Linked DNA regions of Homo sapiens: region 2 is linked to region 1. Evidence: fine-mapped expression QTL. A gene starts in region 1. The other region holds a variant in brackets. All regions are shown on one strand. Distances are from middle to middle. Region 1 holds the start of CIB2 (calcium and integrin binding family member 2). Region 2 overlaps ACSBG1 (acyl-CoA synthetase bubblegum family member 1).

Region 1 (4,379 bases):
TGGCTGCTGTTCTCACCAGGGAGTGGCAAAATAAGGTTGGAAAACCCCAACCAGTAGCCTCAGATATAAAAGAAAACTAAAAGCATGAGGGATCATCTGCCAAACTTGAAGCCCTGTTCCCATCAGAACCCACAAGCTTCAGCAGCCTAAGCACTCTCAAAGTATGGTTCCAAGACCAGCTGCATCAGTGTCACCCAGGAACCCTTTCGATACCCACATTCTTAGCCACCCCAGACCTTCTAAATCAGAAAATCTAGGGGTGCAGCCTCCCAAGTAATTTTGATACATGCTCCCAGGTGGTTTCAGAACCACTATCCTAAAGTAACAAACCACGCATTTTAAAGCATAAAGTCTTGATCTCGCCCAGGCATGGTGGCTCACGCCTGTAATCCTAGTACTTTGGGAGGCCAAGGCAGAAGGATCACTTGAACCTGGGAGTTGGAGACCAGCCTGGACAACATAGTGAGACTCCATCTCTATTTTTTTTTATATATATAAATAAAAAAAAATCCTGATCTCTTCAAAGTCCACTGGCAGTTGTGGAATGGTATGTTGAGCCAGTGCCTGGGTCCAGTCCAGGTTCTACTAATTCCCAGCTGTGGGACCCTGGGCAAGTTACTGAACCTCTCTCAGCCCAACTCTTTGCCTATAATATGGAGATAATACCTACTGATTCAGTTGTCCTGAGTTTAGAAATAACAGTTGTATGGGCTGGACCCCAAAAAGATAGCGGTGACTCCATTTGGTGGATGGGGAAGGAGTTCAGAACATGCCACCACAACATATGCTGCTCTGGCATATTGAGTATTTGAGTTAAAGGCACTTGAAAAATAGCAGATGCAAGAAGGGCACTCTTGATCATCCTTCTTTTTCTAAAAAACAGGAGATGAGGCCGGGCATGATGGCTCACATCCTATAATCCCAGCACTTTGGGTGAGAAGCCAAAGTGGGTGGATTGCTCGAGCCTGGGAATTCAAAACCAGCCTGGGCAACACGGCAAAACCCCATCTCTACAAAAAAAATACAATAATTGGCCGGGCGTGGTGACTCAGGCCTCTAATCCTAGCACTTCGGGAGGCTGAGGCAGGTGGATCACCTGAGGTCAAGATTTCGAGACCAGCCCAGCCAACATGGTGAAACCTCTCTCTACTAAAAATACAAAAAAAAATTAGCTGGGTGTGGTGGCATGCCCCTGTAGTCCCACCTACTAGGGGAGGCTGAGGCAGAAGAATCGCTTGAACCCAGGAGGCGGAGGTTGTAGCGAGCCAAGATCGCGCTACTGCACTCCAGCCTGGGCGACAGAGGGAGACTCCATCTCAAAAAAAAAAAAAAGTATTTAGATTTTGCCAGTTCTCAGGGTCTTCATTTCCTTATGAGGGCTTCCACGTCATGTAAAACTTGTATTAAATCTGTTTTTCTCCCCTTAATCTGTCTTATGCCAAATTAATTCTCAAGCCCAGCCAAAGACCCTAGGAGGGCAGAGGTAAAGTCCTGCTTCCCTTACAATGGCATCTGCTTAAAAGCTCCAAAAAATGTCTTGGCCTTTGTCACACTTCTGTGGACACAGTCAAGTCCTTTAAATCCTCTCAAGTCTCACGTTTGTAACCAAGCCAAGTAAATCCTGTCCTGCTCCCTAAGGAACACAGAAGGTCTGAGATGCCCTGCCTAGGCCGCGCCCAAAGGCCAGATGGGCTTCCCGAGGCCTGGCCGGGAGGGCCTCAGATGTCAGCTTGACTGACCCCCTCCTTCTCCCCAGAGGGACAGGGCCCGGGTAAGGGCTTGACCAAGGTCGCGACGCGAGACGGTGGCGGAGCCCGGCCCCAGCTAGATCCACGCACTCACAGTCCTCGCTGCCGCCCCCGCCCCAGGTCAAGGGGCGCCACTCGCCCCACTGCCCGCCTCGAGAGGGTTTTTTCCCAGGCCCCGCACCCTCACGCCGTGCGACCTGGACTCCCACGGCGGGACCCGGGCTCACACCTCTTCCTGCTGCGGGGCGGAGTCGCCGCCGCTCCGGGTCTTTGTCCCCGCCTCCGAGACCCCCGCGCGCCCCCAGCACTTCCGGCCGCGGGAGCCAAGGGTTCGTGCCGGGCAGCGTCTCCCGGGGCCAGGTCGCCTCCTGCCGGGACCCGGGCGCGCTGCAGCCGCGGAGCCGGGTGCCCCGCCCTCTTCCCGCCGGCGGCGGAGTCGCTGCCGCTCCGGGTTCCCGTCCCCGCCTCCGAGACCCCCGCGCGCCTCCTCCAGGCGAGCTGCGGGGCGGGAAGGGTCCGGCCACCGTGGGCCGCTGCCAGCCGCGGGGCTGCCGAGGGCCGCGGGCACGGGGCGCTGGCTCCGGGTCTGGCGGCCGCTGATGGGAGTCGGAGCCCGGGCGGGCGAGCGGCGGCGCGGCGGCCACCATGGGGAACAAGCAGACCATCTTCACCGAAGAGCAGCTAGACAACTACCAGGTGAGCTCGGCGCGCCCGGCCCCCAACACAGGCCCCGCCGCCCCGCCGCCCCTCCCTTTTCTCGGTCGCTGGCCGAGGCCTCCCGAGAGCCAGCTCTCCCAGGTTCAAACCCTGCCTCTGCCTTCAGCTCGACGCGTGACCTTGGGCCGGTGACTTCCCCTCGCCGTGCCTCAGTTTCCCCACCGGTGGAATAAGAGCTCTTTCCAGTTGGAAGAACCTCTCAGGCGCGCCTCTCTCCAGCTACTCTCGCCCTAGGCAGGACCCGAACCCCTCTCCAGCCACCCATTCCAGCGCCCATCTGGCCCGGAGAGGGAGTCAGTAAACTAGGCTGGACGGAGGACCGCCCTCCCCGCTCCCTGCCCCCCAGCCCCAGGAAGGAGCCCAGGAGAGCGAGTCTCTGTAAAGCAGAAATGAGAGCTGGCGTCCTGTCTGGTCTAGGAGTGGGGTGCATCAGTCCCCACATGCAGTCTTCCCTTGGGACTGTCTTGTTTATCGGCTGGGGTTCGCTCCTTCTGACCCCAGCATGGAGATAACTGGAGCAAGAACGCAAGCCCGGTAGCAGCCTTCCAGGGCCACCTCTCCCAGCTCCCTTAGGCCCTCAGTAGCCACCTCCTTAGACCTTTCTAGGTTTTCCTGCCTCCAGAGCCAGCTTTCCAGATCTGGAATCCCAATACCGTCCCACCCAGGTAAAAACTTCGCTGTGGTTGCAGGATGAAGCCCAACCCCTTGGCTTACCCGGAGCCCTGGCCAATTGCTCAGCTTATCTCTGCAGCCTCAGTCTCCCCAGGTCCCTTCCCTGCCCTCTGCATGGCAGCCGCCTTAAAACCATTTGCAGTTGCTCCAGCTCACCAGGCTCATTCCTCCCTCCCTCTCTCCCTCTGCCCATGCCATTTCCTGGGCCTGGATGCCTTTCCCCCCTCCAGAGGATCTCTTTCACCCTTCAAGTCCCACATCTGATGCCTCTCCCCTGACTCCCCAGGCGGAGGGGGCAGGATTGTGTTGTGGCCTGTGTAACTGGGCAGGAGGAACACCAACAGGGTCTCCATAGGCACTTGTTGCCTTCATCAGTGCTTACTTTGGCTGTGAAGGAAAGCAGGTGTGAAGTGTGGGTCCTCTGATGTGGGTGAAGGTAAAACAAAGGCCCCTTCTCCTCCTAGAAGCCCTAGTTGTCAGTAATGGATTTCTCAGCTCCCCAGGTGAGGCCCTGGGAAGGAAGAGGGGAGACGCATTTATGGAGCACCTGCTGTGTACCAGGCACAGTAATTGATGCCCTCTACGCATCAACTCACTTGATCATCACAGTGAGGTGGATTATTAGCCCATTTTACAGACGTGTAAACAGAGGCTGAGGAGCCATTCAGGGCTCACACAGGATTTCGAATCTTGACTCCTAGGCTCACTTCTTTAGTTGGGAGTGGGCTGGGCTGGGCCATGTGTGCTTTTTGTTCCCAAGGCACTCAGTCTCAGACACTCAGAGACAGACTCTCACCTCCAGTGTGTGGCCCTTGTGATAGAGGCAGGTGGTGGAGTGTGTTCTAGGGAAGGGCACTAGTGGGCAGTGGGAGGCCAGCAGGGAAGGGGGACAAAGTCCAGAAACGATACAGCACTTGAGCAGGCCTTGGGAAGATAGGTCGGGTTTTGCCCAGTGGGGCCCAGAGGAGGCATTCCAGGTGGAGGGGACAGCGTGGATAAAGGCTTGGGAGTGGGCAGGGGCAAGCAGGCAAGCCATGCTCAGAAGTGAGGAGTAGCTTCATGGGGGTGGGGAGCCCAGGTTCCCACTCCAACCAGCCTGGCATTGGGTTACTCATCGGAGCCAGTCCCAGTGTTATGTTCTGATTCTTTGCCAGAGCCTAGCTAGACCCTGCCAGGCGGGGTGGGAGAAATGAGAGCTGTGAAACCTGAGAGCCCCACATCTCCTACCCTCTGGCTCTCCAG
Region 2 (4,379 bases), 78 kb before region 1:
AGTATCCAAGGGCCACAGGGGTGAGAGGGTGTTGGGGAAATCTAGGAGGGCTTCCTGCAGGAGGAGTTGAAGGAGGCTTGGGAGGCTCTGTGTGCAAATGGTTCCCATCAGCTCCTCTGGCAAGGTAGAAGGAGTAAGGAGACACCAATCCACCAAGAGATGGTTAAGAGAAAGGCGCAGTGCAGACGCTCCCAGGCTCCTCTGCCCCCCACACATCTTACATCATATTTGCTCAAACACGCCCTTTGTTTTCTTGTTCCCATGCTGCTGGGTAGCTGCTGATAAAGTGTTTTTGTTTTCTGTGAAAGGAGAGCAAGGCGATGAGCTTAAAGTGTGCTTATGTGAGCTGAGGTCAGAGAATGAATCCTTGTTCTCGTCCTCAAAGACGAGTGAAAAGGGCCAACCTTGTAAGCTCTTCTTCCTCCTGGGAATTCAAAATGCAGACAGAAGCCAGTCAGCCTCCTCAGGCCGTTCTTCCACCATTATTGTCATTAATCATGTTAGGTGACTTCCGCCAACCTCTGGAGTATTGCCTTCCAGAAGGAGCATAATTTTCCAGAATGACAGGAATAATATGTTAATCGCCTTCGGCGTGCTCATGATGATCACAATGACAGTAATATCAACTCACCTGTAGGATCATTTACAGCCACCTGTCCTTCCTGGAATAGCAGCAAGAATCAGGAGAAGGGCCCAAAATGCTTTTGAGGAGTTAAGACAGAGTAGGGGCAGCTTCCCAAACCTTAGCTTCTTTTCTTCAAAGAAAACATGATAGGTTCCATTGTGGAACTTGTCCCCCAATGTAACCTAAGTTCTAACGAGCTTGGCTGTTTTGTTTTCTATTCTGCTACAAAAAGAAATGGCAATGTAGGAGTGAGATGAATTGCTAGAAGCCAGCACACTGAAAGTAGCAAGAAGTGACTGCTAGTCACAGAGGAGAGGATTAAAAACTAAAAAATGGCCGAGCATGGTGACTTGCGCCTATAATCCCAGTACTTTAGGAGGCCAAGGCTAGAGGATCGCTTGAGCCCAGGAGTTGGAGACCAGGCCTGGCAACATAGCAAGACCCTGTCTCTACAAAAAATACAAAAATTAGCCAGGTTTTGTGGTGCTGTCCTGTAGTCCCAGCTACTCAGGAAGCTGAGATGAGAGGATTGCTTGAGCCTAGGAGTTTGAGGTTGCAGTGAGTGGTGATTGTGCCCCTGCACTCCAGCCTGGGTAACAGAGCAAGGCCCTGTCTGCAAAATATAAATAAATACATACATACAAAATAAAAACTGAAAGACGACCATTACGAACAACAACGAGTGTGAGACAGCACTCACAATGAGGAGAGGCAGATGGCCCGAGCAGTTTCACTTGTTTCTGTGTGACAAGTCAGGTCAGGAAAGCCTGTTACTGGTTATAACTCTGTGTGAGCAGGAAGTTACTGGAGGTTTAGCACATTCTATTTCGGATGACATCTCTTCAAAGGGACCACCTCTCAAAGCCCCTAGTGAGGAAAAGATCAGGCTTAATTCATTTGGAGAATTAGGTTTTGACATTCTTTTAATCATGCGCCCCAAATTCTGTAAGCATAGGGCATAGAGAGTTGAATCAGTGCCTTGAGCCAGCCACAGGGATAAGGAAGGTGTTCTTGTTAAACTGATGCTGGCAGAGGGCCACGGTCCACCCTCTCATTGACCATGGTTGCTGGACAAGATCAGTGTCTGAGCAACAAGAAATTTGACACTGCACTGGGTGCTGCCCCTCCAGGAAAAGGCACCCACC[C/T]GCAGCAAGAAGGTGCTGCCAACAGCCTCATCGTCCCTATAAACAGAAGGTTCTAATCACGATAAGTACGCTTGACCCTTGGCTTCCTTTGGTGGCTGTCTTTTCATTTAGTCTTTGTGTAGCTATTTTAAAACCAGAACCAGTTTACACTAATTTTCTGTGGGGAGAGAAGTGCTGCCCATACCTTTTGATTAGGAGGATTTAAAAACAGGTTTGTTTGTGAGGAAGCAGTTCAGATGGTGGGACATTACAGCCAAGGACAGCCTCCTGCCTGGCTAATGTGGAGGTGGCCGCCCAGCTGGTGATCTCAGAGGCTGATTAGAGCTGCTAACTCTAACCTGGGGTGCTGTCCACCGTCCTCTGAGAACACAGGCTGAGATGGGGCAGGGACATCAACCAAGTTCACAGTCTTCCCCAGATGATCACAGTGCAGGCCTCTGAGCCTAGCAGTGTACGTGTCCCTCGTTTGCCGTCGCTGCCTGAACCCAGAGCTCAGGGGCCATTTGGTAACATTGCGGCCCAAAGTGGAGGCAGCTTCTACCTGGCTATCCCAGAGAGCTGTAACCAAGGATCCAAAGTCAGTAGGACGAGTTCTGCAGCATTCACACGCCTCTGTCTGCCCGGCACAGGAGGCCTCGCCCCGGAAGCACACGTTGCCATCTCTTCAGTTTTTCCACAACCTCCCTGGAGTGGGTCGCCATAGCAATGGAAGGGCTGCTCCAGGCCTGTGGCCCAGGCCTTGCTCACAAATTTCGCAAGAACGGCGCCACCTTGGTTCCCCAGTCATCCCCCTTCTCCCCGTCCCCCTCCCTTCATAACCTTCTGATATCTTTCGCTTTAAAACCTATCTCAGGTTCTTAAGCAGATGGCTGCCAGGTGGGCCTAGGTGTGTTCACAAACTTAGTTTTGTTCGGAACCTGCAGTGCCGACAAGGAGTGAGGCTGAATGTGAGAAGCAGGTAATTGGCCCGGCTTCCTGGGAACTGGGCAGGGATGGGGCTAGCCCCACCCTAACTGACAGACAGGGCTCCCTGGAGCCAGGGTCCTACCCTCAGGGACACCATGACCAGCTGCACAGGTTGCATGCTGCACAACTCCAGTGGATTCTGTTTACGTAGTTGTTGACTGTGAAATGTGTCTCTGGAGTTCTATAATCCTGTTGCAGTCCTAAAGTGTGTACTGAAATCCAGCTGCTCAGCCATCTAGGAGGTTGAGGTCTGGCCAGGTGAACTCTGAGGAAAAATGGTGCTGAAGGGCAGTCAGGCTGAAAGGATAATGAAAGCCCAGAAACCCATGAAACTTGGGTTGGCCAGAAGGGGAGACCCTTTAGCCAGGGTCACCGAGCCTGGGAGGCGAGGGGGATCTGGGTCAGGCCCTGGGCCTCAGGTCTCCCTGGACCCGTCTATGTCTGTCTTCTCCATGGAGTGAACAGACATGGGGTGCATGGTGCACCCACAAGCACATGGAAGAGGGGAGGCCCTCACTGGGGGGCCGGAATAGGACCCCTGAGAGCCCTATGAGTACCTGCAGCTCCACTCAGTTTCTGGGCATGGCTGGGGACTGGTGGGTACAGGGAGTGACAGATGGGGGAACCCCCGCCCCAAAAGTCTGCCCTCTCCAGGAGTGGCATTCAGAATCCTCCAGTGCGGACCTTAGCCCCGTCCTCATCCAGGTGGGGTGCTGAGACCCCGAGAGAGGCATGAACTTGCCCAGGGTCACACCACAAAGTAGAGCACAGAAGGCCTTGAATTCCCTTTCTCCTGAGCCCTTAGAGCCTGGAGGGAGGCTGGGTGGGGGCAGGGTCAGCCCCTACAACCACTGAGGTCTTGTCCCCTGACTCCCACTGGGTTCTCCTCTGTGGATGGCCCCAGCATTTGCAGGAGACAGAGGTGCCAGTGTCCCCCTGGGGGTGCTGAGATGTGTGCCAGGCCGGAGTCCCTAAGCCCAGGCCGGTCCCCCACGTTCTAATGAATGTTTTTCCTGGTCCCCTCACCACCCCAGCTCACTGACTGACAGGCAGCCACTCTCCAAAGAGTCCCTGAACCATGCTCTCGAGCTCTCAGTGCCAGAGAAGGTGAATAATGCCCAGTGGGATGCTCCAGGTAAGCCAGCTGGGGGTGGTAGGGTGGGGCAGGGCGGGAAACTGTGCTGTGCTGGGTGTGCTGGAGGGGTGGGTGGTGTGGGGGACCACCACACAGAACTGCGGGAAGGAGCAGCTGGGGATCTTGCTGGTTCCACGCTCCCAGGGACCCCACCAAGCCCCTTCCTTCATGGCTGCCATCAGGGCCAGGCGTGATGGAAAGGAATGAGGGATGGGGAGATTTCTTCTTCAAGAAAGCTGGGAAGAAGAGAGGCCAGAGATAGAGAGACAGGTAGGACATCATCTGGGCCCAGGCCTTGGGAACTTGGGGCTCCAGCAAAGGGTTGCTGAGGGACAGGAGAAAGCCCAGATAAGCAATGCCTTGGGATTTTTGGCCTGGTTAACTGGGGCAAGGGGCAGGCAGACGGGTGCAGGCTAGAAAGGTTTGTTTTGGAGGCTTGAAACATTACATGTTATCTTCTTGATCTCCACCATCAAATAATTGTGCCTTAAGGAAGGCAGAGTTATTT

The links. PIP is the estimated chance that this variant, and not a neighbour inherited with it, causes the effect. A credible set is the group of variants that fine-mapping cannot tell apart.
Region 2: its variant is the best candidate, but not a certain one, in a credible set for the expression of CIB2 in esophagus mucosa (GTEx, PIP 0.66).

Annotation. Positions count from the first base shown.
Region 1 is chr15:78,129,230-78,133,608 of GRCh38, reverse strand. It overlaps CIB2 (calcium and integrin binding family member 2), which reads left to right and starts at 2,164. Exons shown (of 6, transcript NM_006383.4): 1 at 2,164-2,444. The coding sequence starts at 2,394. RefSeq lists a silencer at 1,940-2,459.
Region 2 is chr15:78,207,494-78,211,872 of GRCh38, reverse strand. It overlaps ACSBG1 (acyl-CoA synthetase bubblegum family member 1), which reads left to right. Exons shown (of 14, transcript NM_015162.5): 2 at 3,771-3,871. Among named protein-coding and RNA genes, the nearest start is that of ACSBG1, 25 kb to the left of the region's middle. RefSeq lists an enhancer at 3,421-3,932. The variant C/T (reference allele first, on the strand shown) is at 1,771.